Regions from separate parts of the Homo sapiens genome. Here region 2 is linked to region 1. The links come from fine-mapping of genetic effects on gene expression. A gene starts in region 1. The other region holds a variant in brackets. All regions are shown on one strand. Distances are from middle to middle.

Evidence for each region. PIP is the estimated chance that this variant, and not a neighbour inherited with it, causes the effect.
Region 2: its variant is fine-mapped to the expression of SCIMP in whole blood (TOPMed, PIP above 0.99).

What each region holds. Positions count from the first base shown.
Region 1 is chr17:5,225,719-5,241,957 of GRCh38, reverse strand. SCIMP (SLP adaptor and CSK interacting membrane protein) reads left to right here and starts at 7,098. Exons shown (of 5, transcript NM_207103.3): 1 at 7,098-7,223. The coding sequence starts at 7,203. It overlaps ZNF594-DT (ZNF594 divergent transcript), which reads right to left. Exons shown (of 6, transcript NR_152840.1): 6 at 5,955-6,844. RefSeq lists enhancers at 1-177, 4,412-4,711, 6,657-6,856 and a silencer at 15,657-15,857.
Region 2 is chr17:5,200,902-5,217,140 of GRCh38, reverse strand. SCIMP (SLP adaptor and CSK interacting membrane protein) reads left to right here. Exons shown (of 5, transcript NM_207103.3): 4 at 2,143-2,216; 5 at 6,186-8,221. The coding sequence ends at 6,340. It overlaps ZNF594-DT (ZNF594 divergent transcript), which reads right to left. Exons shown (of 6, transcript NR_152840.1): 2 at 7,246-7,391; 3 at 2,932-3,091; 4 at 1,848-1,994. Among named protein-coding and RNA genes, the nearest start is that of ZNF594-DT, 17 kb to the right of the region's middle. RefSeq lists a silencer at 8,533-8,712. The variant A/T (reference allele first, on the strand shown) is at 9,623.

The sequences.
Region 1 (16,239 bases):
ACATGGCTGGCATGGGTTGTGTCCAGGTAGCTCAGCTGGGGCTGCCAACCCAGGGCTCTGCATGGCTTCTCCAGCATGGCGGGGTCTCAGAGTAGCTGGACTTCTTATGTGGTAGCTGGCTTCCCCCTCCCACTGAGTGGGAATCTTAAGAGGACGAACTGGAAACTTCATAATTTTTTTTTTCTTTGAGATGGAGTCTCACTCTGTTGCCCAGGCTGGAGTGCAGTGGCCTGATCTCGGCTCACTGAAACCTCCACCCCTGGGTTCAAGCGATTCCCCTGCCTCAGCCTCCCGAGTAGCTGGGATTACAGGTGCCCGCCACAGCGCCCGGCTAATTTTTGTATTTTTAGTAGAGACAGTGTTTCACCATCTTGGCTGTTACACGCCTCCGTATAAGAGACCACCTGAGCAGGCTTAGTGGAGCAACAAGGCTGTTTATTCACTTGGGTGCAAGTGGGCTGAGTCAGAGAAAGGAGTCAGCGAAGGGTGGTGGGAGTGGAACTGGTTCTATAGGTTTGGGGTAGGTAGTGGAAAGTTACAGTTAGGGGCAGTTTTTTTGGGCAGGGGAAGAATGTTACAAGGTGCATAGTCACAAGGTGGGGGAAGTCATAAGGCACGATATCACAAGGTGGATGGATTAGTTGGGGAAGGGCAGGAACATATCACAAGGTGGATGGATTAATTAGGGTAGGGAAGGAACATATCACAAGGTGGATGGATTAGTTAGGGTAGGGCAGGAACATGTCACAGTGGTGGATGGATTAGTTGGGGAAGGGCAGGAACATATCACAAGGTGGATGGATTAGTTAGGGTAGGGAAGGAACATATCACAAGGTGGATGGATTAGTTAGGGTAGGGCAGGAACATGTCACAGTGGTGGATGGATTAGTTAGGGTAGGGCAGGAACATGTCACAAGGTGGATGGATTAGTTAGGGTAGGGCAGGAACATGTCACAAGGTGGATGGATTAGTTGGGGAAGGGCAGGAACAATCACAAGGTGGATGGATTAGTTGGGGAAGGGCAGGAACATATCACAAGGTGGATGGATTAGTTGGGGAAGGGCAGGAACATGTCACAATGGTGGATGGATTAGTTGGGGAAGGGCAGGAACATGTCACAATGGTGGATGGATTAGTTGGGGAAGGGCAGGAACATATCACAAGGTGGATGGATTAGTTAGGGTAGGGCAGGAACATGTCACAGTGGTGGATGGATTAGTTGAGGAAGGGCAGGAACATGCCACAAGGTGGATGGATTAGTTGGGGAAGGGCAGGAACATATCACAAGGTGGATGGATTAGTTAGGGTAGGGCAGGAACATGTCACAGTGGTGGATGGATTAGTTGAGGAAGGGCAGGAACATGCCACAAGGTGGATGGATTAGTTGGGGAAGGGCAGGAACATATCACAAGGTGGATGGATTAGTTAGGGTAGGGAAGGAACATATCACAAGGTGGATGGATTAGTTGGGGAAGGGCAGGAACATATCACAGTGGTGGATGGATTAGTTGGGGAAGGGCAGGAACATATCACAAGGTGGATGGATTAGTTGGGGAAGGGCAGGAACATATCACAGTGGTGGATGGATTAGTTGGGGGAAGGGCAGGAACATATCACAAGGTGGATGGATTAGTTAGGGTAGGGCAGGAACATATCACAGTGGTGGATGGATTAGTTGGGGAAGGGCAGGAACAATCACAAGGTGGATGGATTAGTTGGGGAAGGGCAGGAACATATCACAAGGTGGATGGATTAGTTGGGGAAGGGCAGGAACATGTCACAATGGTGGATGGATTAGTTGGGGAAGGGCAGGAACATGTCACAATGGTGGATGGATTAGTTGGGGAAGGGCAGGAACATATCACAAGGTGGATGGATTAGTTGGGGAAGGGCAGGAACATATCACAAGGTGGATGGATTAGTTGGGGAAGGGCAGGAACATATCACAAGGTGGACTGTTGCAAGGTCGGTTAATCATTAAGGCAGGAACTAGCTGTTCCGTCTTCTTTAGTGGTTCTCCTGTTGCTCCAGGCTTTGTGACTCCAGGAGGCCTGTAACGTGTGGGTCACAGGGGTCACAATGGCTCGACCATGGGGTAGCCCATTCAGGGGACCTTCCACTGGCCAGGTTGGTCTTGAACTCGTGACCTCATGATCCACCCGCCTCGGCCTCCCAAAGTGCTGGAATTACAGGCGTGAGCCACCGCGTCCCGCCCAAAGCTGCATAATTTTTTATCCTCAAAAGTTAAGCAGCTTTCCTTCCCCTACAGTCAGTGTTATAAGTGAGTCACTAACGTCAGCCCACTTTTGAGTAGAGGGGACATAGATTCCCACAGCTCAATGGGAGGAGTGTCAAAAAAATGTATGAGCATATTTTAAAACCATTGCAAAGTATGTCATGGGGAGAGTGTCCAGAGGAGAGATGACTGAGTTGGGTTAAATTGCCAGGCCAGGCACAGTGGCTCATGTCTGTAATCCCAGCATTTCGGGAGGCCGAGGCGGTAAAATCTCTTGAGGCCAGGAGTTTGAGACCAGCTTGGGAAACATAGCGAGACCCCCATCTCTACAAAAAATTTAAAAATTAGCCAGGTGTGGTGGTGCATGCCTATGGTCCCAGCTACTTGGGAGGCTTAGGTGAGAGGATCGCTTGAGCCCAGGAGTTCGAGGCTGCGTTGGGCCACGACTGCACCACTGCACTCCAGCCTGAGTGACAGGGTGAGACCGTCTCAAAAATAAATGAATAAATAAATAAATTGCCAGGCCACAGAAAATGCTTAAGTATTACAACTGGTAAATCATAAGAGTTATGGTTGATGTGGCTCCCAGTCAGTTGAGTGGTAATGGGGCTGGTGGACTCATGTTTGGGAACGAAGAAGAGAGAAGGTTCAAGAGTGAGAACTGAAATCACTGCTGTCTCTCCATCCCTGTCCCAGGGGAAAATCCATTGCCCAGCCATTACCAGCTCCTTGAGACTGCCTGCATTTCTTGGCTCGAGACCCCTTCTTCGGATCTCCCCAGTCTCTTGCCTCTGCCAGCACATCCCCTGCCACTGACCCTGACTCTCCTGTATCCCTCTCAGAAGGATCTTGTGATTACATGGGGTCCATGTCGATAATCCTGCATGACTTCCCCACTTCAAAATCCTTAGTCATATCTGCAAAATCCCTTTCACCATCTAAAATAACATACTCATGGGTTCTGGGGTTTAGGGGCCCAATGCTCCTAGTACCTTTCATGGGAATCTTTACCTCCAGAAATGGGGAGAAGTGGGCAGGGACTCCCTTCATACACAAGACACGGCTGCCTCCTGCCACAACCCCAAATACTTATACACTTGCCTTTTTACATCTGAGCTGGAACGACCCCACCTCAATGTCATGGGGCCAGGGTGGGAGACAGAGGAGCTACAACATCTGCTTGGCTATTGTTAGGGACAAACAAAGCAGCCACGGTTGCTTAGTGATGACTTCTGGTTCCACCTGAGTGCTTTGGCCACCCATATTGCTCTCAGAGCTCTTTAAAGATGAGTTATTGTGCCCGGAGTGGTGGCTGATGCCTGTAATCCCAGGACTTTGGGAGGCTGAAGTGGACAGATCACCTGATGTTAGGAGTTCAAGACCAGCCACCTAACCAACATGGAGAAACCCCATCTCTACTAAAAGTACGAAATTAGCAGGGCATGGTGGCGCATGCCTGTAATCCCAGCTACTCTGGAGGCTGAGGCAGGAGAATTGCTTGAACCCAGGAGGTGGAGGTTGCAGTGAGCCAAGATCGCGCCATTGCACTCCAGTCTGGGCAATAAGGGCGAAACTCTGTCTCAAAAACAAAAACAAAAACAAACAAAAACCCCCACCTTTTTAAAAACTGCAATAAAATCTATTAATGTTCTAATTATATGTTGTATCTTATGATTTCTCTTTCTTCAGTTTTTTTCTCATGATGGGGATTAATTGACACTTGTGAGTGGCACAAAGAATAACACCTCATTTTACACATGACTTAGATGACTGAGTGAGAAGAAACAAAACGGCAGAAGCTGGGTGCCACCCGGATGTTGACAAAAAGGTTGAGTCATGAGATGAAGGGTGGACTGGAATCCCTTCTGAGTGTCCTCTAGCCTGATGGTCTCTGTAGCTTTAAGAGGTGAACATCTTGTGTGTCCAGCCATCCCTACGGGGAGGTCAGAGGGACCAGAATCCTGAGGAGAAAGCACCACAGGTGACCACTAGAGGGTGCCCTTCATTCTCCTTGACACCCTCTGGTCCAGCCGCTAATCTAGGGCCCTCAGGGACCTCTTTAGTTGCCCAGACCAGCAGGTGGCATTTCAGATGTGCAGAAAGAACACAACCGCCCCAACTTCCTGCCCTCCTCTTGTGGTGGAAAGACAAATGGTGGAGTCGGGGAAGAATGTAGATAGCAAGGAAGTGGGTAGATCCAGATGCCGTGGTGTGTGTCCCTAAACTTTGCTCTCAAGCCTCTGACTGCCCAACACATTCACTCTTGATCAGCCATGCAACCATCTCTTTCTCTCCAAATACTATGGCTGCTTTGTGTCTGTCCACATTCTGTCCATTTGGTGAGCTCCTACACATCCTTCAAGGCCCAGTTCAAATGCTACCACTCAGACCCTTTCTTCTCTCCCACTTTTGTGCTTCCACAGCACTAGCATTCATCACTTTGCATAGTAATAACTTATGTGCCTTCTGTCCTGTAGAACATGTGCCATGTGCTCTACCCATGAATGACTTGCCCAGTTCTGAGTCTCTACTTGTTGAGCACAGGGTCTGGCACAAATTGAAGGTCATTGTATTTAGCCTGCATCATATTATGGCTTCAACTTCCTCCTACACTTTGCGGGACTTTCTTGAAGGCAGATGGCAAAATCCCTGGAGCACTTTCATATTTGTCAATTGAATTCTTTCATTTTACAACAAGGAAACTGAGGCTCAGAGAAGGGAAGGATTCACAAAGAAAGTTTTGTCAAACCGGGCCTGGAATTCTGATCACCTGACACCTCAGGCTTGAACTTGCTGTGCAAAAGGCATTGTTAGAAATAGTAGGGCTACAGAGTTTACTATATCACAGCTGAACTGAGGTCCTTAAAGGTTAGCAAAATAATTTATTGAGTAATTTATTGAATGAATGAATGAAACACAAACCAAGAAGTCACAGCTTTGTTAGCCTAGGATGAGCTCTATCCACAGAAGCATTTATTCACCCCTCAGAAGAGAATTTTTTTTTTTTTTTTTTTTGAGACGGAGTGTTGCTCTGTCACCCCGGCTGGAGTGCAGTGGCTCGATCTCGGCTCACTGCAACCTCCGCCTCCCAGGTTCAAGCGATTCTTCTGCCTCAGCCTCCCAAGTAGCTGGGACTACAGGCACCTGCCACCATGCCTGGCTAATTTTTGTATTTTTAGTAGAGACGGGATTTCACCATGTTGGCCAGGCTGGTCTCAAACGCCTGACCTCATGATCCGCCTGCCTTGGCCTCCCAAAGTGCTGGGATTTCAGGCGTGAGCCACTGTGCCCGGCCTAGAAGAAAATTTTAAATTGGCTTTTAGGAAGGTTTTTTAGCAGCTAAACTTTGGATGAGCCTAAGAAGAAAGAGTTCAGGCCTTGGCCAGGTGCAGTGGCTCAACTCTGTAATCCCAGCACTTTGGGAGGCCGAGGCAGGTGGATCACTTGAGGTCAGGAGTTCGAGACCAGCCTGGCCAACATGGTGAAACCCTGTCTCTACTAAAAATACAAAGATTAGCCGGATGCGGTGGCACACACCTGTAGTCCCAGCTACTTGGGAGGCTGAGGCAGGAGAATTGCTTGAACCTGGGAGTCGGAGGTTGCAGTGTGCTGAGATTGAGCCACTGCACTCCAGCCTGGCGACAGAGTGAGACTGCATCTCAAAAAAAAAAAAAAAAAAGAAAGAAAGAAAGAAAAAGAAAAAAGAAATTAGTAAACACTGCAAATCAGGAATCTTCTGAGCCAGATGTTTTGTTTTGTTTGTTTGAGATAGAGTCTTGCTCTGTTGCCCAGGCTGGAGCGCAATGGTGTGATCTTGGCTCACTGCAACCTCCACCTCGCGGGTCCAAGCAATTCTCCCGCCTCAGCCTCCTGAGTAGCTGGGACTACCGGTTCACACCAAAATGCCCAGCTAATTTTTGTATTTTTAGTAGAGATGGGGTTTCACCATGTTGGCCAGGCTGGTCTCGAACTACTGACTTCAGGTGATCCACCCGCCTTGGCCTCCCAAAGTGCTGGGATTACAGGTGTGAGCCACCGCACCCAGCCAGAGCCCGGTGTTTGTTAAATTTACCAGACATATATCAGACATTATCAGATATTTATCAGACATATCTGGTTATCATTATTACTGAAATGGATAACAACTCATTCGCTCTGGGCAAATACAATGCACATCCGTTTGCCTATTTTTACTAATGTGACTGCTCATTTGAGTCAGAACCAGCCAATTCAACAAAATGGCTAATTGGTTTCCCCACTCCAACCCCCATGGTCAGAGGCCGTGGGCCTCGCTGGGAGTTCTGTCTCACAGTATTGCACGAGGGGACCCAACTCAGTCAAAATGCTCCACTGGCCACATTTCTCAAGGTCGCCACTCACACGCCTTTAGAAACAGGAAGCCTGTCCCTTGCCTCCTCCAAGCAGAAGATGTCTCAGCAGTTCCAAGGTGCACAGGAGCTTTCAAGAGTCACCTTCATGGTGAGATGGTGAGTTTGTCACACATGAGCTGGTTTCTTACCTGGATCTGTCTCTGCATGGGAGCTGGCGTCCTGTCGCTCTTCTTGAGACTGAGGTTGCCACATCCAGGAATGCTCACGGCAAACTCGTCTGTGGGGACACCAAACCCACCCCCACTGCCAAGTCTCCACCCTGGCCCCTGGCCCCTGCCAGGACCCCCTACCACACCATGAGGGTCCTCTGGTAGGCCTTGCGGGAGCGACACGGGGCAGTGAGAAGATTCTGGCTTCTGGACAGCCGTGGGTCATGAGCTTCCCTGGAAAAGGGATGGTTGCCTAGAGATGACGCCAGGGTCTCTGCCCCGTGGGCTGACTAGAAAGGGGAAGTGGTCAGGATGGGGCTCACTGTCTCTAGCAGTGGGTGAAGGCCTGTGAGTGAGGAATGCCTCTCACCAGCTGTGCCTGAGCTGCAGCACTCCAGCCACTGCTGTCTCCTTAGCTGCTCACATATGGATACTTTCACAGTTCAGGTAAGCATCTCAGCTTTCCAAGGGACAGTTTCCTGCTCTCTTCACAGCAGACATCTGCCAGCGCTGGCATCAGGGCGTGTCCCTGGGAGCCACCGATCAGCACTGGGCCAGGGGATTGCAGCCTGGGGCCCTGGTACGACTGCTGTGTAGGGTTGGAGAAAAACTTGCATTGAAGGATCTGCTCTACTGGTAACTGGCTGAGTGACCTGAGGCATCACTTCACCTCTCTGGGCCTTTTCCTCATGTGTATGTCAGGGGCGATGAAGAAGTCTACCTCTTGGATTGAAATGAGATAATGACCGGGAGTGAGAGGTCTCAACTGTAACGAGTTACTCTCACTTTCTGGATGCCGATGGTGTGTTTTGGGACTTGTTATGTGAGAAGACTGTCATGGTGCTATGCTGGAGGTGGGGGTGGGAGCGAGGCACTGACTGTGTCAATTTATTTATTTTTATTTTATTTTGAGATGGAGTTTCGCTCTTGTCGCCCAGGCTGGAGTGCAGTGACGTGATCTCGGCTCACTGCAACCACCGCCTCCCGGGTTCAAGCGATTCTCCTGCCTCAGCCTCCTGAGTAGCTGGGATTACAGGCACCCGCCACCACACCTGGCTAATTTCTGTATTTTTAGTAGAGACGGAGTTTCACCATGTTGGCCAGGCTGCTCTCGAACTCCTGACCTCAGGTGATCCGCCCGCCTCGGCCTCCCAAAGTGCTGGGATTACCGTAGCATGAATTTAGGCTACGTCTTGGGGCTCTTGGATGAAAGACCTGGATCACCTCCAGTCTTGGTACCTTTGTCATTGCATCTCTGGCTTTCAGTAGTTCATTAGGCACCTTCCCTTCCAGAGGCCTCGAGATCAAAGTGTGTTGGGCTGGCGTGAGTTCTCGGTGTAGCCATCTGCTTTTGCCCTCTGGAAAATTATTTTGAGAAGAGATCTGGGTTTGGCTTTGCCATATCCACTCCCACTGCCTGGTGTGTCCACTTGTCCCTGAGGTCTTGGCCATGAAGCAATGTGGAGCACAGGCTTCACTCTGCTTCAGTGGTAAATAACTACTGAGAGGCAGGCGGGGCATGGTGGCTCACGCCTCTAATCCCAGCACTTTGGGAGGCCAAGGTGGGCAGATCACAAGGTCAAGAGATCAAGACCAGCCTGGCCAACATGGTGAAACCCTGTCTCTACTACAAATACAAAAATTAGCTGGGCATGGTGGTGGGCGCCTATAGCCCCAGCTACTCGGGAAGCTGAGGCAGGAGAATCGTTTGAGCCCGGGAGGTGGAGGTTGCAGTGAGCCAAGATTATGTCACTGCACTCCAGCCTGGTGACAGAGCAAGACTCCATCTCAAAAACAAACAAACAAACTACTGAGAGGCTTAAAGCAAGGAAGGGACAGGGTCACACTGGTATTTGGCAGCCAGTGGGGAGCCCAGTGGGGGCTAGGGGCCAGCGAAAATGCAATGGTCCAGGTACAGAGATGAGGACTTGGACTACATTTGGAGGCTGATGGGCTGAAGCGGGGTGGGGATGGGGCCATGGGAGAAAGAGGAATGAGGCAAGGTTTCCGGTCTTTTCCAGAAGTGAAAGTATAGAGAAGGGAAGAAGAGAGGCTGGACTCCTTTTAATGACCCTGCCGTGCACTTCCCCATGCACACTTGGGTTTTAAGTTGCCAGTGACTATCCACATGGCCATTTCTGGTGCTGACATCAGTGAGAAGGACAAGTGGAGCGAGGCTCAGTGGCTCACGCCTGTAATCCCAGCACTTTGGGAGGCCGAGGCAGGTGGATCACTTGAGGTCAGGAGTTTGAGACCAGCCAGGCCAACATGGCAAAACCCCATCTCTACTAAAAATACACAAAAATTAGCCGGGTATGGTGGTGCGTGTCGGTAATCCCAGCTACTCAGGAGGCTGACACAGGAGAATAGCTTGAACCAGGAAGTAGAGGTTGCAGTGAGCTGAGATTGCACCAGTGGAGTCTAGCCTGGGTGACAGAGCAAGACGCCATCTCAAAAAAAAAAAAAGAAGAAGAACGAGTGGGAACAAGGCCTCACTTAGCATGAACAGCAACAGTCGGGGAATTAGAGGTGAACTGGGGCAAGAACTGCTCATGCCAACCGGCCTAAATGTTCTCTACAGCCTCTCAGACCCTCGAGATCTAGACTGAGATTAGTTCGAACCCTCATTCCAGGCCTGCCGAAGTCCAAAGCCCTCCCCAGGACTTCTGTGGACTCCCGAGGAGCCCACCTCTTTTTCCATGGTCAGCAATGGGCCTGCAGCCTCTGTGGGTAAAACTGTTTACACTGCGCTGTTTACACTGCACTGTTTGCACTGTTTATACTGTTTATACTGCACTGTTTATACTGCACTGTTTACACTGCACTGTTTATATTCCACCCCTTTCTTAGTCCCCCACACCCCTAGAACAAATCTGCTCACAAAAGAATTGGCAGATGCAGCAGACTTTACCAAAGACTCAGCGGGGGACCACCAGAGGGGCTTGTAACGCATCAGCGCAAACAACTGCACACAGAACATAACACGGCGCTGCTCTGAAAATGTCTTTGCCAGCCCATCCCTGAGCATTTTCTATCAGCTCCTCCTCTTGATACCAAATGAGGCCCATTCTGCTCATCGCACAGTAAGCCAATCACTGAGGTGACCAGTTTTTTTTTTTTGTTTTTGAGACGGAGTCTCGCTCTGTCGCCCAGGCTGGAGTGCAGTGGCGCAATCTCGGCTCACTGCAAGCTCCGCCTCCCGGGTTCACGCCATTCTCCTGCCTCAGCCTCCCGAGTAGCTGGGACTACAGGCGCCTGCCACCATGCCTGGCTAATTTTTTGTATTTTTTAAGTAGAGACAGGGTTTCATTGTGTTAGCCAGGATGGTCTTGATCTCCTGACCTCGTGATCCGCCCGCCTCAGCCTCCCAAAGTGCTGGGATTACAGGCGTGAGCCACCGCGTCCCGCCAAGATGACCAGTTTTGCAGCACAGAATGCATTTATTCATGAGGCAGCCAAGTGAGGAGATGGGAAAACAGGTCTCAAACCCACTTCCTCGAAGATGGGGTTTAGAGACGTTTATGGGACAAAGAAGCAGGTGGCCTAAGGTGTGGGGAAGGTGATTGGAGGGAAAAGTAGGACATCGGCAATCTGTGCAAGCCTAGTCAAGCTTCATCGTTCTTCATAGGATGCAGGTTCACAAAATGGTGGCATTAGCATGATGGAAGATGGAGTTTTTGGCGCTCTGACATCAAACGTCACCTACTGGACACTCACACAGACCAAGTTGAAGGATTGATGGTCATAAGTGGCTTGAACTGGATAAGAGCTGACCCCAAGTTCCTGAAAAACAACTTTTTTTCTTTTCTTTTTTTTTTTTTGAGATGGAGTTTCACTCTCGTCACTCAGGCTGGAGTGCAATGGCGTGATCCTGGAGGCTCACTGCAACCTCTACCTCCTGGGTTCAAATGATTCTCCCTCAGCCTTCCGAGTGGCTGGGATTACAGGCGCCTGCCACCACACCAGGCTAATTTCTGTATTTTTAGTAGAGACGGGGTTTCACCATCTTGGCCAGGCTGGTCTCGAACTCCTGACTTCAGGTGATCTGCCTACCTTGGCCTCCCAAAGTGCTGGGATTACAGGCGTGAGCCACCGTGCCCAGCCCTTGAAAAACAACTTAAACAACCATTACTATGATGACCTATATGTCAGAGATGTTATCCAGCAGGAAGCTAGTGGAAGTCCAGTTAAATATTGCTTAGCTACATGACTTTTAGCTCTATAGGCTTTTTTCTTTTTTAAAGACAGGGTCTCACTCTATAACCCAGGCTAGAGTGCACTGATGGTAATCACAGCTCACTGCAGCCTCAATCTCCTAGAGTCAAGCCATCCTCCCACCTCAGCCTCCTGAGTATCTGGGACTACAGGCACATGCCGCCACATCTGGTTTTGTTTTGTTTTGTTTTGTTTTGTTTTTATTTTCAGTAGAGAGAAAGTCTCGCTGTGTTGCCTAGGCTGGTCTTGAACTCCTGGGCTCAAGTGATCCTCCAGCCTCGGCCTCCCAAAGTGCTGGGATTACAAGTGTGAGCCACTGCCCCCAGTAGCTATATAGGTTTTAAGATCAACTAGAAGCAAGTGACTAAAATCAAGTAAGGTAGGTTAAGTTCTGCAGGCCTAATCTAGCCCTCGGGTTCACTCCCACCTTTGCACCATCCTGCTGGCTTCCCTTTTCATCTTTCCATCCCTTCTTCTCATCACCTTCCCTCCCAGAACTCCAAATTCTCCCCTTCTATAACCCAGAGGAATTCAACATTCCCCAGTTCCTACCAGCAAACTTCATTCCTAACCCAGCCAGCTTTGCAGATCTGCAGATCCTCTGCAGGGAGAATAGGGGACTCTCCTGGTCGGTAGCTGCCCTTCTTAGAAGACACTTGCTATTGTAAATAGAACTTGGTTGGTTTGCCCTTAATAATGCCTCATGCTTGGTGATCTTCTGCACACAGAGCTCTTTTGCATGCAACATCTCTTGGAAGCTTTTCAGAAGCCTGCAAGGAGACGTTAAGCATCTTATTCCAAGTGCAACAGCTAAGTGGGAACAGGAAACCTATTCCCTCTGGCCAGGTGCAGTGGCTCATGCCTGTAATCCTGGTACTTTGGGAGGCTGGGGCGGAGGATCACTTGGGGCCCAGAGTTTGAAACCAGCCTAGGCAACATTTTTTGTGTGTCTACAACATTTTTTTGTCTCTACAAAAAGGAAAAGAAGGGAAAGGAGAGGAGAAAAAGGAGAGGAGAGAAGAAAGGAGAGAAGAGGAGAGGAGAAAGGAGAGAGGAGAGGACCGGAGAGGAGAGGAGTGGAGAGGAGAGGAGCAGAGAGGAGAAAGGAGAAGAGGGGAGAAAGGAGATGGGGGAAGGGGAGGGGAGGGGAACTTGTTCCCTTGATGGCCAGCCTAGGGCCCTTCAGCGCTTCATTTATGTGAATACGTGAATAACTATCACAACGTAAACCATATTTCTTACTGAAGATCTTCTTTTAAAAATGCTAAATACGCCGGACGCAGTGGCTCATGCCTGTAATCCCAGCACTTTGGGAGGCCAAGGCGGGTGGATCACCTGAAGTCAGGAGTTCAAGACCAGCCTGACCAATATGGTGTGAAACGCCATCTCTACTAAAAATATAAAAATTAGCCGGGCATGGTGGCGTGCGACTGTAGTCCCAGCTACTTGGGAGGCTAAGACAGGAGAATTGCTTGAACCGGGGAGATGGAGGTTGCAGTGAGCCAAGGTCGCGCCACTGCACTCCAGCCTGGGCAACAGAGCAAGACTCTGTCTCAAAAAAAAAAAAAAAAAAAAAAAAAAAGCTAAATAAACCCACAGTCTCAGAAATTCCTGGTGAAGGAAAATGTGATTTCTGTCCCTGACACCCTGGAAATGCCCTTTGGAGAAATGAAAGTGAAGCTGATGTGTTGACTGCCTTCAGTTGCTCTCCCACTCACACGCCCTCTTCACTGTGGAAGGTCTTGCCAAATCCTTTCCACTGAAACCACCCAGAACTGCAACAGGCTCACTCATGTTCCTTGAAAATGTCATGGACAACTAGAGGAATGGGGAGAAACAAAGGGGAAGCTGGAACTCCACCTCCCCAGCATTGGATTGCCACTGCTTCCCAGCCAGCCTCTTGGCCCCAGTAGCCAATGGCCAGCGCAGGACGGGGAGCCTGCCCAGGGTCGCGTGTCCAGATGAGGCTTTGGAATTAGACTGCACAGCACAGTAATTTCAGTTACTGGACCCAAAGTGACTTCTGCCTGCATTCTCGGGTGGGAGGTCCATCTATAGCAGGGGAAAGAGACTGGGGCATCATCCATTCTTTCGTATATTCACAGATATGTATGGTATGTCCTGCCCCAGGTGATGTTCTAGGCGCTAGAAACACAGTGGTAATTACAGGCAAAGCCTCTGCTCTTATGCTGCTTGCCCATCAGTGTGGGAGACAGACAAGGAACAAACAAATAAAAAGAACAAATACACCAAGAGACAACTGTCACTGTCACAGGCTCAGTTGGAAGAAAAATGCATTTCACTGTTTTTTCTTTTTTTTTTGAGACAGGGTCTTACTCTGTCACTCAGGCTGGAGTGCAGTGGCACATTCATGGCCCAATGTAGCCTCGAATCCCTGGGCTCAAGCAATCCTCTCACCTAAGCTTCTTGAGTAGCTGGGACTATAGGCATGCACCACCTTGCCTGGCAAATTTTTAATTTTTTTTGTAGAGACAAGGTCTTGCTGTGTTGCCCAGGCTGGTTGCTAACTCCTGGCCTTCAGTGATCCTCCTGCCTCAGCCTCCAAAACTGTTGAGATTACAGGTGTGAGCCACTGTGCTCAATGCATTTTTTTTTTTTTTGAGACAAGATTTGGCTCTGTCACCCAGGCTGCAGTGCAGTGGCGTGACTGCAGCTCACTACAGCCTCAACTTCCTGGGCTCCAACAATCCTCCCACTTCAACCTCCCATGTAGCTGGGGCCACAGGCGCGTGCCACCATGCCCAACTTATTTTTCATTTTTAAAATTTTGTTTGGAGAAGGAGTCTAGCTCTGTTGCCCAGGCTGGAGTGCAGTGGCGTGATCTCGGCTCACCACAACCTCCGCCTCCCAGTGTCAAGCAATTCTCCTGCCTCAGCCTCCCAAGTAGCTGAGATTACAGGTGCACACCACCATGCCTGGCTAATTTTTGTATTTTAGTAGAGACGGGGTTTCACCATGTTGGCCAGGCTGGTCTTGAACTCCTGACCTCATGATCTGCCTGCCTCGGCCTCCCAAAGTGCTGGGATTACAGGCATGAGCCACCGCGCCCAACATATTTCACATATACATATTGCAGGGGGTAGTGACATCCCTTCACGTAGCTGAGTTCTTCTTGGGATGCGGTAGGCAAGGAGAAAGGATGGCCTCACGAGAGAGGCTCCACCAACTAAAATTGTGAAGAAAGCGCCATGGGAATGGGGGATGGGGACTGGGCTGGAAGGTGGAGGAGTTGGTGCGTGCTATTGCACTGCTCTGCTCAAGCCGGACCCCTCCCACCTCAACCCCCACACTGTTGACTTTGCCTCCCACCTCAGAGGAAATGGAAACTTAGGTGTGAGCTCTCAACTTCCTGCCCCCAAGCCCCTTCTCTCTGGTTCTATTCAGTGTCACTCCCTTCTCTAATCCTTGTTCCCTTTTGAAAGTTCATTCTGGGTGGGCAGGGTGGCTCACGCCTGTAATCCCAGAACTTTGGGAGGCCGAGGCATGCGGATCACTTGAGATTAGGAGTTCAAGACCACCCTGGCCAACATGGTGAAACCCCCTGAGTAGCTGAGGAGGAGCTTAACCTCCTGAGTAGCTGTGACTATAGGCACATGCCGCCACACCTGGCTAAGTGTAAGAGTGTGTGTGTGTGTGTGTGTGTGTGTGTGTGTTGTGTGTGTGTGTATATAGAGACAGGGTCTTGCTATGTTGCCCAAGCTGATCATGAACTCCTGGACTCAAGTGATCCGCCTGCCTTGGCCTCCTGAAGTGCTAGGATTACAAGCATGAGCTACTGCACTCGGCCAGTGCAAACACTTCTTTGCGATCCTTCAGTAGCCCTCAGTAGTCCTGTACTCACAATCTTATCGGCCCTCTGTGGCAACAACTCCAGGTCTGCCAGCACAGGTAGGATCCAGCTTTCATACCTTCCCAGGGCCTGAACTCGGTCATGCAGCCATTGTGTACTCCCTGTTTTCTGTACTCTCTATCATCCTTCCCCAGGGCTTCCTCTCTCTGGAAGCACCTTGGCCATTAAACCAGCCTGGTGGCCTAGAGGACATCCTACTGGAACTAGGATGTGATTCTCTTAGGCCCCCTCTCTCAGCTGCCCTCTCTCAAAAAGCAAGCTCTCCTTGGTTCTATTAAAAATGTGTCGGCCGGGCGTGGTGGCTCATGCCTGTAATCCCAGCACTTTGGGAGGCTGAGGCAGGCGGATCACCTGAGGTCAGGAGTTCGAGACCAGCCTGGCCAACATGGTGAAACCCCATCTCTACTAAAAATACAAAAAAAATTAGCCGGGCATGGTGGCACACACCTGTAATCGCAGCTACTGGAGAGGCTGAGGCAGAAGAATCGCTTGAACTGGAGAGGTGGAGGGTGCAGTGAGCCGAGATCACGCCATCGCACTCCAGCCTGGGGTACAAGAGCGAGACTTCATCTCAAAAAAAAAAAAAAGAAAGAAAGAAAAAAGAAAAGAAAAAGTGCCTCTCTGCGGTCCATTTCACTTGTAAGAACAAAACTGACAAAAAATATTTATTACTCTGAGTAGTTCTGAAAATGACCCATGGTTTCACTTTCTGACAACATCATTCCACTTCCTCTTTCCCAAGAAACTGATGAGAATGAAATTTCCTTGACCTTGAAACCCAAGCAATAGTTTTTTTTGGAAGCTACACTACATGGCCAATTTATTCTTTCCAGTGTTATCAAAGTAAATGTACGTAGTGCAAAAATCAAGTAATGCAGAGTTTATAACGAAAAGCAACAGCCCCTGTCTTCCCGCCTCGACCTTCCACGCAGTCACAATCCAGATACAACAGCTTTGAATGCGCAGGTCGTGGTATTTATTTCTATCGCTCTAAAGAGTATTGTTTCAGGAAAAACTCTGCAAGCGGTGTTTTTCCTCTGTTCTCACACCAGCACAACAATCACCAACACAGAAAAGGGCTTCTGTGACCAAATGTGTGAGGGTTTTTCCGCCACACACCAAGCAGTGAACACCAGCTGGGTGTTCTCCAATTCAATGCCAGCACTATAGACCCAGAGATAGTATCAGATCTCACAGCTCAGTTCCCAAGACTGCTGCCCCCAACTCCCCAGACGTCAGTCGCAAGTCCGGGCCTCTGGAACTTGAGAGCAACCAGCTTCAAGTTGGGGTTCTCACAACTCCCTCTTTGAGATCGGTGTTTTTTTTTTTTTTTCAGATGGAATCTCGCTCTTGTTGCCCAGGCTGGAGTGCAATGGC
Region 2 (16,239 bases), 25 kb after region 1:
AAATTTAGCAGTCAGATGAGTTGCTTTCTTCTCTTAGGAAGAGCTACAGAGGGATGGTGAGAGCCGCCGGTGGAGCTCTACCCCCATGTCCCCGTCTGCACTCAACCTAACAACCTAAAAATGTTTATTCATTCTCAGGGGGACTTTATAGCATATAGGAGTCAAATCAGTGTACCTAGGGGGATGGAGGCCCAAGTAAGGAAGTTTTCTTAGAGTTTATCTTTTAGTTAAAACTTTGTACCAAAGTATCATATAAATACAGGAAAATGGAAATACTGAGTGTGCAACCTGATGAATTTCCACGAACTCAACAGACCCAGGTCACTGGCACCCAGATCAAGAAATAGGACGTTACCAGCACTTCAGAGGCTGACTTTATACAGCCTTTCAACCATTACATCCCAAAGGCAATCACTGTCTGTGATAGTATAAATTAGCTTTTTGGGTTTTTTTTGTTTTTTGTTTTTTTGTTTTTGAGATGGAGTCTCACTCTGTTGCCCAGGCTGGAGTGCAGTGGCGCGATCTTGGCTCTCTGTAACCTCCGCCTCCCAGATTCAAGCAATTCTTCTGCCTCAGCCTCCTGAGTAGCTGGGATTATAGGCATGCGCCACCACACCTGGCTAATTTTTGTATTTTTAGTAGAGACTGGGTTTCATCATGTTGGCCAGGCTAGTCTCGATCTCCTGACCTCATGATCTGCCTGCCTTGGCCTCCCAAAGTGCTGGAATTACAGGCATGAGCCACCGTGCCCAGCAGCTTTTTGGTTTTTATGCAATCTATTAATGGCATCATATAGTATATATTATTTGGTGTTTGGCTTTTTTGCTCAACATCATTTTTATGAGATTCATTGTGTGTAGTTGTAGATTGTTCATTCTTGTTGCTATAGAACATTCCACCGTGGGAGTACACCAGTATTTATTTATTTATTTATTTATTTTGAGACAAGGTCTCACTCTCAACCAGGTTGGAGTACAGTGGTGCAATCATAGCTCACTGTCACCTCAAATTTTGGGCTCAAGTGATCCTCTTGCTTCAGTCTCCTGAGTAGCTGGGACTACAGGTGTATGCCACCACAACCTGCTAATTATGTTGATTTTTTTGTAGAGACTGGGTCTCCCTGTGTTGCCCAGGGTCTCCCTATATTACCCTTAAACCCCTGGGCTCAAGCCATCCTCCCTCTTTCGCCTCCCAAAGTGCTGGGATTACCAATGTCAGCCACCTTGCCCAGTCACTTTACCATAATTAATCTATCCATTCTACTGCTGATGGACATTTGAGTTGTGTGATGGCAAATTTTATGTGTCTGTGCTTCTCTGGACAACCCAGACTAATACAGGTCGTGTCCAATTCAGAGCTGTTATGAATAGTGTTGCTCTGAACATTCTAATGCATGTTTTGGTGAACAGATGCGAGCATTTCAATAGTCTGTAGACCCAGTAGTGGAAATGCTGACTCAAGGTGTGTGTACATTCTGCTTTAGGAGTTCATCTGCTTTTGTTTTTTGTTTTTTTATTTGTTTGTTTTGAGACAGAGTCTCACTCTGTTGCCTAGGCTGGAGTGCAGTAGCATGATCTCGGCTCACTGCAACCTCCGCCTCCGAAGTTCAAGTGATTCCCCTGCCTCAGCCTCCCGAATAGGTGGGATTACAGGTGAGCATCATCATGCCCAGCTGATTTTTGTATTTTTAAGTAGAGACAGGGTTTCACCATATTGGCCAGGCTGGTCTTGAACTCCTGACCTCAGGTGATCCGCCTGCCTCGGCCTCCCAAAGTGCTGGGATTACAGGCATGCGCCACCATGCCCGGCTCATCTGTTTTGCAAATAGAAATACATCTGGTGCCTACCTCTCCGAATCCAGCTCAGGTGAACCAGGAAGGTGTGCTCCATGCTCTGAATTATAGCACTTTATTTCCCTCCCCTCATTTTCAGCCATTTCCAGGGCTACAGAAAACGGTTTCATTAGGGTGCCAATTACAAATGGGAACCAGGACCTACAAAGGAAAGGAAATGCTTCCAATTAGTAGAGACCAAGATTTGAATGTTCAACCCATTCACTTTCCTTGATGTTTTCTCTTAAATCGGCTGGGAGCAGGCATGGCCCAAACCAAACACTGATTCTCTCTCTTTCTCTCTCTCTAGGAATGTTCTTAATGAGTCGCCAGTTCAATTACCGCCTCTGCCACCGAGGAATTGGCCTTCTCTAGAAGACTCTTGTAAGTATATTTTACTGGTAGCAGTTTCATTTAGGGTAAGATAACGAGTTTATCAAGGTGTCTTTTTTTTTTTTTTTTTTTTTTTTAGATGGAGTCTTGCTCTGTCACCCAGGCTGGAGTGCAATGGCACGATCTCGGCTCACTGCAAGCTCCGCCTCCCGGGTTCATGCCATTCTCCTACCTCAGCCTCCGGAGTAGCTGGGACTACAGGCACCCGCCACCACGCCCAGCTAATTTTTTGTATTTTTAGTAGAGAAGGAGTTTCACCGCGTTAGCCAGGATGGTCTCGATCTCCTGACCTCGTGATCCACCGGCCTCGGCCTCCCAAAGTGCTGGGATTATAAGCGTGAGCCACTTTTTTTTGTTTTTGAGATGGAGTCTCGCTCTGTCCCCCAGGCTGGAGTGCAGTGGCGCGATCTCCACTCACTGCAAGCTCCGCCTCCCAGGTTCACACCATTCTCCCACCTCAGCCTCCTGAGTAGCTGGGACTACAGGTGCCCACCACCACGCCTGGCTAATTTTTTGTATTTTTAGTAGAGACGGGGTTTCACCATGTTAGCCAGGATGGTCTAAATTTCCTGACCTCATGATCTGTCCACCTCGGCCTCCCGAAGTGCTGGGATTACAGGTGTGAGACACCACGCCCGTCCCCTATGAAGGTGTCTTAGATAGCTCAGGCTGCTGTAACAAAAATACCATAGACTGGGGTGCTTACACAACAGAAATTTGTTTTCTCGTTGTTCTGAAGCTGGAAGCCCGAGATGAGGGTGTTGGCCGATTTCTGTGAGGTTTCTGGTGAGGGTTCTCCTCCTGGCTTGCAGACAGCTGCCTTCTTGCTATGTCCCCACAAATGGCCTTTCCTTGGTGCATTCAAGCTGGGGAAGAGCATCAGGGAGTCAGATTTCTGGTGTTTCTTCTTACAAGGACACTGATCCTGTTGGATCAAGGCCTCATCCCTATGGCCACATATAGCCTCACTGGGGGTTAAGGCTTGAACACCTGAATTTTGGGGGGACACAAACATTCAGTCTGTAACACTAGGATTTATAGATGCAGCATCCTGATTATTTTATTTTTGAGGCAGAGTCTTGGTTTCTCACCCAGGCTGGAGTGCAGTGGCATGATTTCAGCTCACTGCAATCTCCACTTCCTAGGTCCAAGCTATTTTCCTGCCTCAGCCTCCTGAGTAACTGGGATTATAGGCGTGCACCACCACACTCAGCTAATTTTTTGTATGTTTAGTAGAGACGGGGTTTCACCATATTGACCAGGCTCGTCTTGAACTCCTGACCTCAAGTGATCCACCCGCCTCGACCTCCCAAGGTGCTGGGATTACAGGCATGAGCCACCACACACAGCCAGCATCCTGTTTAAAAGAGATAGCCAGAGGCCAGGCACAGTGGCATATGCTTGTAATACCAACACTTTGGAAGGCCAGGGCGGGCTGATGACTTGAGCTCAGGAGTCTGAGAACAGCCTGGGCAACATGGCAAAATCCTATCTTTACAAAAATTAGCCAGCGTGATGGTGCACACTTATAGTCCCAGCTACTTGGAAGGCTGAGGTGGGGGGATCGCTTGAGCCTGGGAGGTCTGCAGTGAGCCACGATAGCATCACTGCACCTGGACGACAGAGTGAGACCCTGTCTCAAAAAAAAAAAAAAAAGGGATGGAAAAGCAAAAAGGGGGCAGCATAAGTACCGACGCACCCAATAGCCTGATATAAGGGTGTAAATTCATGTTCAAATCCCAGCTTGGAACATAAACAGAAAGAAACATGGGGTGTCACTAGGCCTTTCACTTCCTATCAGAAAAACTCTGCCTGGTTCCTTTGACTGGAATGTTCTTCCTTAAGCTCTTTGCCTCGCTGGATTTTCCTCATCCTTCAGATGTCAGCTCAGAAGTTACCACCTCAAAGAGGCCCTCTCTGTCCACTCAACCTAAAGTAGTTCTGCTAATTTCCTTTATGAAACTGACAGTTATCCAAAATTGTGTTATTTACTTATTGTTCATTTATGTATTATTGATCTCCTCCACTGGAGTATAAACTTCAGGAACACAGGAACCTTTTTTGTCCACCACTATTAATATTTATCCACTACCTAGAACAGGGCGTGAGGCTCAGTCGATACTTAAGAAAAATATTTTGATTGGATAGATAAATAATATTAGCTAACATTTATTGAGCATGCGCTGTGTTTCAGGTCCCACACTAAGCACTTTACAGGTATTAGCTCATTCACTCCTCACAACTCTACAAGCCAGGTACATTTTTTTGTTTGTTTGTTTTTTGAGATGGAGTCTCGGTCTGTCGCCCAGGCTGGAGTGCAGTGGCGCAATCTCGGCTCACTGCAAGCTCCACCTCCCGAGTTCATGCCATTGTCCTGCCTCAGCCTCCTGGGTAGCTGGGACTACAGGTGCCTGCCACCATGCCTGGCTAATTTTTTGTATTTTTAGTAGAGATGGGGTTTCACCATGTTAGCAAGGATGATCTCGATCTCCTGACCTCGTGATCCACCCACCTCAGCCTCCCAAAGTGCTGGGATTACAGGCGTGAGCCACCGCGCCCGGCCCAAGCCAGGTACATTTTTATTCCTCTGTGACAGATGAGGATGCTCAGGCACAGATAAGTGACTTACCTATAGTCACACAGCTAATGACTGCTGGAACGTGAACATGAACTCTGGTCTGTCAAACTGCAGAGTTCTGCAAATAGTGGCATTTCAGGTTTTCTTAGGAAAAGATGAGATTGTGGGAGAGGCAGTTCCAATCCCCATCAAAGATGGAGCTGAGCTGTTTCATCATCCTTCTATTACTTATGGACCTGTTCTTTTTGTTTGTTTTTTGTTTCTTTTTCTTTCTTTCTTTCTTTTTTTTTGAGACAGAGTCTCGCTCTGTTGCCCAGGCTAGAGTGCAATGGTGCAATCTTGGCTCACTGCAACCTCTGCCACCTGGGTTCAAGCAATTCTCCTGTCTCAACCTCCCGAGTTGCTGGGATTATAGGCACCCGCCATCACGCCCAGCTAATTTTTGTATTTTTGTAGAGACAGAGTTTCATCAGGCTGGTCTCGAACTCCCGACCTCAGGTGATCTGCCCACTTCAGCCTCCCAAAGTGCTGGGATTACAGGCATAAGCCACCGCGCCCCAGCCTCCTATGAACCTGTTCTGTACTAATTCCACCTTTTGAAAACAACGCCATCCCCTTTCTTCTTAGAGAGATTTGTACATAAGCAATTACAGAGAGTCCTGGAAAACAGTGTAAGTCACTGGAAGGGATGTGCCAAAAAGGAAATATGATTTGTTTCACTTCCTTGTAAAAATTAGGATCTGTAACACAACAGCACTCATATGACTACTGGGCTCTGGTCTGTTTCTTTTCATCCATTCTTTTTTTTTTTTTGGAGACAGGGTCTTACCATGTTGTCCAGGCTGAAGTGCAGTGGCGTGATCATGGCTCGTTGTAGCCTTAACCTCCTGGGCTCAGGAAATCCTCTTGCCTCAGCCTCCCAATTAGCTGGGACTATAGGCATGCACCACCACATCCGGCTAATTTTTAAATTTTTCTGTAGGGACGAGGGTCTCCCTGTGTTGCCCAAGCTGGTCTGGAACTCCTGGGCTCAAGTGATCCTCCCACCTGGGCCTCCCAGAGTACTGGGACTACAGGTGTGAGCTTCTGCACCTGACCTGGTCTGTTTCTTTTCTAAGCTTTTGCTTCATGGTTTCCATGCAGTGCAGGCTTAGGCAGAAAGATACGGGAGTCAAGATGTCTGACTAATATTTTCCAGTTACTCACTTGGGTGATCCTGAGGCTCTGTCAGGTCTGTGTCTAAATTTCCTCTGTAAAATGGGGATCTGGCCCACTAGAAGTGGGAAGATCACTGAAACGTGAAAATCACGCTGAGCCACTGCCTTCAAAAATATAAAAACACATGACAGCTTTGCATCTAAGGAGCTTTTTGTGTATTCTAGCCCCACAGGAAGCCCCAAGTCAGCCGCCCGCTACATACTCACTGGTAAATAAAGTTAAAAATAAGAAGACTGTTTCCATCCCAAGCTACATTGAGCCTGAAGATGACTATGACGATGTTGAAATCCCTGCAAATACTGAAAAAGCATCATTTTGAAACAGCCATTTCTTCTTTTTGGCAAAACTGAAGAGGGTTCACACAACTTATTTTAAAACAATCAAGAATGGTTGAACTTCAGTAGGTCTCTGGGCCCTGAAAGCCAGTGGTGATTTTATGAAGCTCTATAAGATAAAGCACTTCCCAAACCTTAGATGAAGACACCCCTGCGATCGGATGACTGCAGCCAGAGGAGACACATGGGTGCTCGGCTCTGAGGACTTAGAGGGGTCAGCCTTGTGCTGTTGAGGAAACTTTCCATGGGAAGGACCACGGGGCTCCATGGCTCCCACCTGTGGGAAACTACTCATTTCTTGGCATTCTTTCCCCCTTCATTCCCTTTGGTTTGCATGGTTCTGAGTGATATTAAATCTCAGCATTTGGTTGTGCAGACCCTCCCAGGCTCCCATCCCCAGCAAGGCCCTCACCAAGCATGCTGGTCTTTACCCTCTCACCCCACCCACCTCCTGCACTGTGAGGCTGTGGGTGAGTTACAGCTGAGTGCTCTCGTGCCCAGGTTCCCACACCACATCTCGCGAGTTTGCAAGGGCAGGGAGTACCTTTTGTTCTCGTGAACCCTCCCCACCTAGACACCCTGCAAACCCCAGTGCCTTTATATGATGTAGGCCAAATTGACCATAGAGATTTGAGTTTTCACCTAGGTTTTCTCCCCGTGCTTGCAAGTTGTACTGTAACAATGGACAAAGGACAAAAGTTACCTTCTGATTTACACCTAGAAGCATCATTTTGCAATAGGTGTGTTGGGGGTGCTACAGGAAAAATACATTTCCCCCAGGACAAATCATGGGGAACAGGAAAGAAAAGGGGCATGTAACAATGGCATATACAAGATGAGAGTTCAGGGGGCTTAATATCCCCTGTCCATCATTTTCATCAGTACTTACTCGAGTTCTAGGAAAACAGCCTCAAGCCCCTTCCTTCCAGATCACTGTCCCTGGGCATCTGGGAGGAGGCAGAAGGTCCACTGTGATGTGCTGCAGCCAATGAGATGGGCCAGGGACATGGGCAGATGTCTTGTTAAACAAGTGTCCTAATGGGGTCAACAAGGCCCGAGTCAGCTTTATAGGCTCTTAGACCTCATCAATTCCTTCTAGCTGATCGCCAGAGCCCTAGGACTTGACTCATTCTAACTATACTCACAAGATGCTGGTTTCTAAGTGACCTCTGGGAAATCTGGCAAATGAACAGCCTTGCAGAGAGAGCACTGTGAACCTGGAAAGGCCTGAGAGTGACTCAGATTTCCCTCAAGAGATGGGAAAATGTGTTCCTCCCATTTTCAAGCTTTCTCCCTCAATCAACGCTGGAGCACTGGGGACCTGGGCTTCCTCCCTGGTTCTCTCTTTCCAGACTCTATGAAGGCTTCCACCTTGCTATTAATACCTCCTTGGGAGGCCAAGGTGGGCGGATCACCTGAGGTCGGGAGTTCGAGACCAGCCTGACCAACATGGAGAAACCCCATTTCTACTAAAAATACAAAATTAGTCAGGCATGGTCGCGCATGCCTGTAATCCCAGCTACTTGGGAGGCTGAGGCAGAAGAATCGCTTGAAACTGGGAGGCGGAGGTTGCGGTGAGCCGAGAACATGCCATTGCACTCCAGCCTGGACAACAAGAGTGAAACTCCATCTAAAAATAAATAAATAAATAAATAAATAAACCCTCCTTATGTTAGGCCAGTAGTTATCTAACTATGGCCTTATGGGACTCTGGTATCCCACCAGCCAAAGAGAGGACTCTTCCCAAATTATAGAACAAAAATAAGCCAAAGGATTGGAGTGTTTCAAACACATGCTTTCGTCTTATAAATGTTCTGTAAACCCTCCATGACTATGACAAAAGTTAAAAACAAATGCCAGACAAATGTTGATTCTTCCTTGGTTTCTGGGACGCCACCCTCTCCTGGTTCTCCTCCTGTCTCCGTCTCATTTTGGGGCCACCCACTCTTTCTGAAGCATCTCTTCAATGCTGGTCTTCCTCAGGTTCTGTCCCTGTGTCTCTGCCCATCTGCCTCCAACACTCACGAGTGATCTCACCAATGTCCATGAGCTCAGTGGGCCCCTCCTTTTTTTTTTTTTTGAGACTGAGTCTCATTCTGTCACTCACGCTGGAGTGTAGTGGCACAATCTCAGCTCACTGCAACCTCCCCCTCCCAAGTTCAAGCGATTCTCCTGCCTCAGCCTCCTGAGTAGCTGGGATTACAGGTGTGTGCCAACACGCCTGCACCCGGCTAATTTTCTGTTTGTTTTTAGTAGAGACGGGGTTTCACCATGCTGGCCAGGCTGGTCTTGAACTCCTGACCTCAAGTGATCCGCTTGCCTCAGCCTCCCAAAGTGCTGGGATTACAAGTGTGAGCCACCACGCCCAGCTGCCCCCTCTATTCTGACTTCAGCTGAGCTCTTTCTCCCCAGCTGGGTTGCCTCTAAGACATCTCGTTGTGACTGCCCCACACACCCCCTCAAGTTCAGCAAACACCAAAAGGAACTGATGACCTACCTCCAGTCCCAAATGTCTTGTGCTCTACTATCTTCTTAGTTGCTGAAGTCAGAAACTAGTATCCTTCTCCCCACACTGCTTTGTTTCCAGAGCTCCCCATGTTACTTGTGCCTCCCACGTGGTTCTCCAATGAGTCCACGTCTCTCCGTCACTGTTCTGAGGTCAGACAATTGCCAGCGCTTGCCAGGAGAATATCAACAGCCCCCTGACTGCTCCCCTGCCTCTGGCACCTCACCTGCCGTCCACTTTCTACATGGCACCCAGTGACTTCCTAAAGTGAACATCTGACCACTTCATTCCTTTGCTTAAATCTTCTCTTTGCCCGTTAACCCCAGAAAAAGACCAAACTCTTTAACATGGCTTACAAGATTTGTCAGGATCTGGTCACTGATTATCTTTTGCCAAACTCTTCTCCCCCAACCCCCTTGCAACCTCCACTCTGCCCAAGTTTTTTGCTCCAGCCACTTAAAATGACCTTCACAGGCCGGGCGCAGTGGCTCACACCTGTAATCCCAGCACTTTGGGAGGCCGAGGTGGGTGAATCATGAGGTCAGGAGTTTGAGACCAGCCTAGCCAAGATGGTGAAACCCCGTCTCTACTAAAAATACAAAACGCAGCCGGGTGTGGTGGCACATGCCTGTAATCCCAGCTACTCGGGAGGCTGAGGCAGGAGAATCACCTGAACCTGGGAGGCAGAGGTTGCAGTGAGCCTAGGTTGCACCACTGCACTCTAGCCTGGGTGACAGAGCAAGACTCCATCTCAAAAAAA[A/T]AATAATAATAATAAAATAAAATGACCTTCACTATGGTCCCTCTTGCCCTGTGCACAGCGCTATTCCTCTGTATGAAACATTCTTCCCCACCTTTGGATCCTTCCCATTTCATCTTGGCTACCCTTTCCTCATGACCCAACTTGGGTTGGTGCCTCCTGGATGCTCTCCTTTCATAGCATTAGCATGTTATAATTATTGCTTATCTGTCTCTCTCCTCCACTAGACCCAAAGCAACATGAGGGCAGGGAATGTGTCCTTCTTTCCTCTACTGTTTTCCCTGTTCCTAGCACAGTGCCCAGGTACATTGTAGATGCTCAATAAATATGTTGAATAATCAACTGGGTTGAATGAATGAATCAATGAACTCTGAGCTCTCACAGCTCCCATACTTGGCCCTATGGAAATACTTCTCCCTTTGTATTATAATTATTATATATTATAATTATAATTACCTGGTTACTTTCCATCCTCCTTTCTAATCTGGGGGCTCCTTTGGGATGGAAATTGTCTCAGTGCTGTATTCCCAATGTCCAGCACAAAACCTGGCACATGGTAGGCAATATTTATTGACTGTTGAACATTCATGGAAAATCTACCAATTGGTTTGACAAAACAATTTTTTTTCCTCTGGACATGTGTAATTTGGCTGAGATTTTATACTGGGAACGTATAATAAAGCCAAGTTTTCTACTAGGGAAATTGTTACCAGTTTGGATGAGATTTAAATATATCAAGATTTAATAGGATCTTTTTGTATAGTCCAGCACCACAGGAATCCCCAAGTTACCTATTGAATACATACTCATCAATAAATAAAGTTAGAAATAAGGGCTGGGCGCAGTGACTCACGCCTGGAATCCCAGCACTTTGGGAGGCCGAGGCAGGTGGATCACCGGGGGTCAGGAGTTCGAGACCAGCCTGGCCAAGATGGTGAAACCCCGTGTCTACTAACAATACAAAAAATTAGCCGGGCATGGTGGCGGGCACCTGTAATTCCAGCTACTTGGGAAGCTGAGGCAGGAGAATTGCTTGAATCTGGGAGGCAGAGTTGCAATGAGCCAAGATCATGACATTGCACTCCAGCCTGGGCAACAGTGAGACTCTGTCTCAAAAAAAAAAAAAAAAGAAATAAGGAGATAGTTTCCATCCTGAGCTATATTGAACCTGAAGATGACTATGATGATGTTGAAATACCCACAAATACTGAAAATCATCATTTTGAAAGAACTCCTGTTCTGCCACCTTAACTGTTTTAAGAACTGATGCTTGGCCAGGTGCGGTGGCTCATGCCTGTAATCTCAGCACTTTAGGAGGCCAAGGCAGGCGGATCACTTGAGGTCAGGAGTTTGAGACTAGCCTGGCCAACATAGTGAAACCCCATCTCTACTAAAAATACTAAAATTAGCTGGGCATGGTGGCGGGCGCCTGTAATCCCAGCTACTCAGGAAGCTGAGACAGGAGAATCACTTGAAGCTGGAAGGTGGAGGTTGCAGTGAGCCGAAATCGCACCACTGTGCCCCAGCCTGGGCGATAGAGTGACTCTGTCTTGAAAAAAAAAAAAGAACTGATGCTTTACTCATACCACAAATCAGTGGATTATAGTTTTCCTTATAATAATTACTATCTGATCTTCTTTGCAATACAAACAAGATTGTTTTCAGGAAATGCACTGGTATTACCAACAACAAATTTTACAAATCATGTGTATTCGATAGGATGCTTTAGGCTGCAAAGAACAGACTATCCAACTAAAGATAACTTACACAATGAGGAGTTTATAATTTCACAAAGCAAGAAGTCTAGAGGTAAACACTCCAGAATTCAGCAGCTCCATAATTTAGGGGTGTGGACTAATTTCAAATTGCTTAGCCTTATCCTCATGGTGGCAAAATAGCTGCCACAGCTCCAAGCATCTGTACATGATAACATTCAAAGTTAGAAAGAAAATGTGCATTACTAACATGTATCTTTTTTTTTTTTTTTTTTGAGATGGAGTCTCATTCTGTCACCAGGCTGGAGTGCAGTGGTGCGACCTTGGCTCACTGCAACCTCTGCCTCCTGGGTTCAAGCGATTCTCCTGCCTAAGCCTCCTGAGTAGCTGGGACCACCACACCCAGCTAATTTTTGTATTTTTAGTAGAGACAGGGTTTCACCATGTTGGCCAGGATGATCTTGATCTCTTGACCTCATGATCCACCTGCCTCAGCCTACCAACATGCTGGGATTACAGATGTGAGCCACCGCGCCTGGCTGTATCGTTTTATTAGGGAGGTGAGCCCCCAGCAACTTTCCCTAATGTCTCATTGGCCTGGAGTGGTCCACATACCCAGGGTTTTAGTCCATTTGGTCTACTATAACAAAATTCCTTAGACTGGATAATTTGTTAAAAACAGAAATGTTGCTGAGAGTTCTGGAGGCTGGGGAGTCCAAGATCAAGGCGCCAGCAGATTTGGTGTTTGGTGAGGGCTCACTCTGTGCTTCACACCTTCTCACCGTGTCTTCACATGATAGAAGGGGAAGACAGCTTTCTGGGGCCTCTTTTATATTATTTTATTTTTTGAGACAGAGTCTTACTTTGTCACCCAGGCTGGAGTGCAGCAGCACAATCATAGCTCACTGCAGCCTCAAACTCCTGGGTTCAGGTGATCCTCTCACCTCAGCCTCCTGAGTAGCTGGAACTACAGGCACATGCCACCACACCTGGCTGTTTTTTTTTTTTTTTTTTTGAGACGGAGTCTTGCTCTGTCGCCCAGTCTGGAGTGCAGTGGCATGATCTCAGCTCACTGCAAGCTCCACCTCCTGGGTTCACACCATTCTCCTGCTTCAGCCGCCCAAGTAGCTGGGACTACAGGCACCTGCCACCACAACTGGATAATTTTTTTGCATTTTTTTAGTAGAGACAGGGTTTCACCATGTTAGCCAGGATGGTCCTGATCTCCTGACCTCATGATCCACCTGCCTCGGCCTCCCAAAATGCTGGGATTACAGGCATGAGTCACCGCGCCCGGCCTATTTTTTTTCTTTCTTTCTTCCTTTTTTTTGGTAAAGATGGAGTCTCACTATGTTGCCCAGGCTGGTCTTGAACTCCTGGACTCAAATAATCCTCTTGTCTCAGCCTCCCTAAATGCTGGGATTACAGGTATGAGCCACCGCACCCAGCCTGGGTCCTCTTTCATAAGGGCATTCATCCCATTCATGAGGGCAGGGCCCTCATGATCTAATCACCCCAAACACCCTGCTTCTTAATACCATCATCTTGGGGGTTAGATTTCAACATACGAATTCTGTGGGGACACAAACATAGACCATAGCATTCTGCCCATGACCTCACAAAATCCATGTCCTTCTCAAATGCAAAATAGATTTATTCCATCCCAATAGCCCTAAAAGTCTTAACTCATTCCAATAACAGCTTTAAAGTCTAAGTCAACATCTCAACTAAATGTTGACTCATTCCAAGTCTGGGCAAAAGTCAAGATATGATTCATCCTGAGGCAAATTGCTCTCCAATTATGAGCCTGTGAAATCAAACTACTTATACAATGTAAGTATGCTTCCAAAATACAATGGTGGGACTGACATAGGATAGAAATTTCCATTCCAAAAGGGAGAAATAGGAAAGAAGAAAGGGGTGATGGGTCCCAAGTAAGTCCGAAACTCAACATGGCAAACAACATTAAGTCTTAAGGTTTGAGAATAATGTTTGACTTGACGTCCTACCCCCCAGATATTGGGATGGGGGTTGGGCCTCCAAGACTCGGGGCGGCCCCCCCATGGCTTTGCTGGGCACAGCCCACTCTGCAGCTTTCATGAGTTGGAGTCTCGGACCTGCAGCTTTCCCAGGCTGGAGTTGCACGCTGGTGGCCCTAACATTCTGGGGTCTTGGAGGCACCCCCGTCCCCATGGCTGTGCTGGGCATTGCCCTAGTGGGGGCTCTCCGCAGTGGCCCTGCCCCTTTGGCGGTGCTCCGTCTGGGCCTCAAGATTCCCCCAGGAATCCTTTGAAATCTAGGTAGAGGTAGCAATGCCCTCACAGCCCATGCACTTTGCGCAGCTGTGGAGATAAAACTGCTTGGACACCACCATGCTTTACTGTCTATGCCTCCCAGAGGGATGGCCTGAGTCACAGCTGGGCCCACTTGAGTCACAGCTAGGGTATGCCAGGAGCCCTGCACCAGAATGCAGGGAGCAGAGCCTTGAAATCGCTTTGACTTCAAGGTCCTAGTTTTCTGGGCCTGTGATGGGCAGGGCAGCCTCTAAAGATCTTCGGAATGGTTTCAGGGTCCTTCTTCGCTGTGATGCTGAGCATCTGGCTTCCATCTCCCCACACTAACCTCCTTATCAAAAGTTTCCTTGGTCACATTCTTGGTGTTTTCTCTTCAACAAGCTTTTTCATTCTTTACAACATGGGCAGGTTGGTAAATTTCTAAATATTTAAATTCTGCTGCTTTTTAAATCATAAATAACATCTTTGGCCGGGGGCGGTGGCTCATGCCTGTCATCCCAGCATTTTGGGAGGCTGAGAAGGGCACATCGCCTGAGGTTAGAAGTTCGAGACCAGCCTGGCTAACATGGTGAAACCCCGTCTCTACTAAAAATACAGAATTAGCCAGGCGTCGTGGCACAAACCTGTAATCCCAGCTACTCAGGAGGCTGAGGCAGGAGAATCACTTGAACCCAGGAGGTGGAGGTTGCAGTGAGCCAAGATCGCGCCACTGCACTCCAGCCTGGGCAAAAAGAGCAAAACTCTGTCTCAGAAAGAAAGAGAGAGAGAGAGAGAAAGAGAGAGAGAGAGAGAAAGAGAAAGAAAGACCATCTTTAATTGGTTTCTCTCTGCTAGCATTTTACTACAGGCATTCAAGAGAAGCTTTGCCGCACTCTCAACACTTTACTCAGATATTTTTTCCACCGAATATCCTATTTCATCACTCAGAATTTCTACCTTCCATAAAACACTAGGACATACAATTCAGCCACATTCTTTGCCAGATAATCAGGATCATTTTTCTGCCAGTTTCCAATAACATGTTCTTCATTTCCATCTGAGACCTCATCAGAATGGCCTTTAACATCCATACTTCTACTAGCCTTCTGGTACAACCTCTTAGGTAATCTCTAAGAAAACTGAGGCTTTCTCTGTAGCTCTCCTCTTCTTCTGAGCCCTCACCAGAATCACCCTTCACAATCTATTTACAACAATACAGGCTTATTTTGTGTGTGAGACAGAGCCTCATTCTGTCACCCAGGCTGAGAGTGTAGTGGCTCGATCTCAGCTCACTGCAACCTCCGCCTCCCAGGTTCAAGCGATTATCTTGCCTCAGCCTCCCAAGTAGCTGGGATTACAGGTGCCCACCACCACACCTGGCTAATCGTTGTATTTTAGTAGAGATGGGGTTTCACTATGTTGGCCAGCCTGGTCTTGAGCTCCTGACCTCAAGCAATCCACCTGCCCTGGCCTCCCAAAGTGCTGAGATTACAGGCATGAGCCACCGCGCCCAGCCAATTTTGACTCTTTAAAGAGATTCAAATAATCTCTTAAGTCAGTAGTCCAAAAGGCTACGACCAACAATTTTGGTTTATCTTCCCGTTGAAAGGATCCTCCATACAGAACTCCACATCCAAACCTATTCATGCTGTATCAACAACTTTAGAACCCAGTAACTCCAGGAGTCTGGTTATTATGACAAATGAATACAGTGGACCATCTCTTCTGCCGAGGCGACAGTTCCCTCATTTAACCCCACTAATAGCTAGATAATCCCCTAAAGACAGATTTAAAAAAAAATTTCTTGCCGGGCGCCATGGCTCACGCCTGTAATCCCAGTACTTTGGGAGGCTGAGGCGGATCATAAGGTCAGGAGATCGAAACCATCCTGGCCAAGATGATGAAACCCCGTCTCTACTAAAAATACAAAAATTAGCTGGCGTGGTTGTGCGCACCTGTAGTCCCAGCTACTCGGGAGGCTGAGGCAGGAGAATCGCTTGAACCTGGGAGATGGATGTTGCAGTGAGCTGAGATTGTGCCACTGCACTCTGGCCTGGCGAAAGAGCAAGACTGTATCTCAAAAACAAACAAACACAATTTCCATTTGTTTTTGTGATGTATGTTGCATCATAGTACTATTTCTGCGTGAACATGTCTCCTGAATTGGAGTTTGCTTCTGTTTATAACCTATTCCATCTGCTTTCCCTGAGTGCACATGTGTGTGCTCTGCCATGGCTAAGCGGCAGAATGGAATCTCACTTAAATTAACAGTTGATTGCCAAACACCCTCCAGCATAAATAGGTAACCGTTGACTGTGGTCGCATTTCATTTTACTGGAGCAGAGTGTACATACAACTATGTGCCAAACTACTGTCAGAAACAGCCAATTAATATCGCTGCACCCTTCCCCTTCAACTGTAAAACTCAACCTCTCATATTGACCAACGTATTTCTTTTTTTCTAGCTGGGATTATAGGCTCCCACCACCACGTCCGGCTAATTTTTGTATTTTTAGTAGAGATCGGGTTTCGCCATATTGGTCAGGCTGGTCTCGAACTCCTGACCTCAGGTGATCCACCTGTCTCGGCCTCACAAAGTGTTAGGATTACAGGCATGAGCCACTGCGCCCAG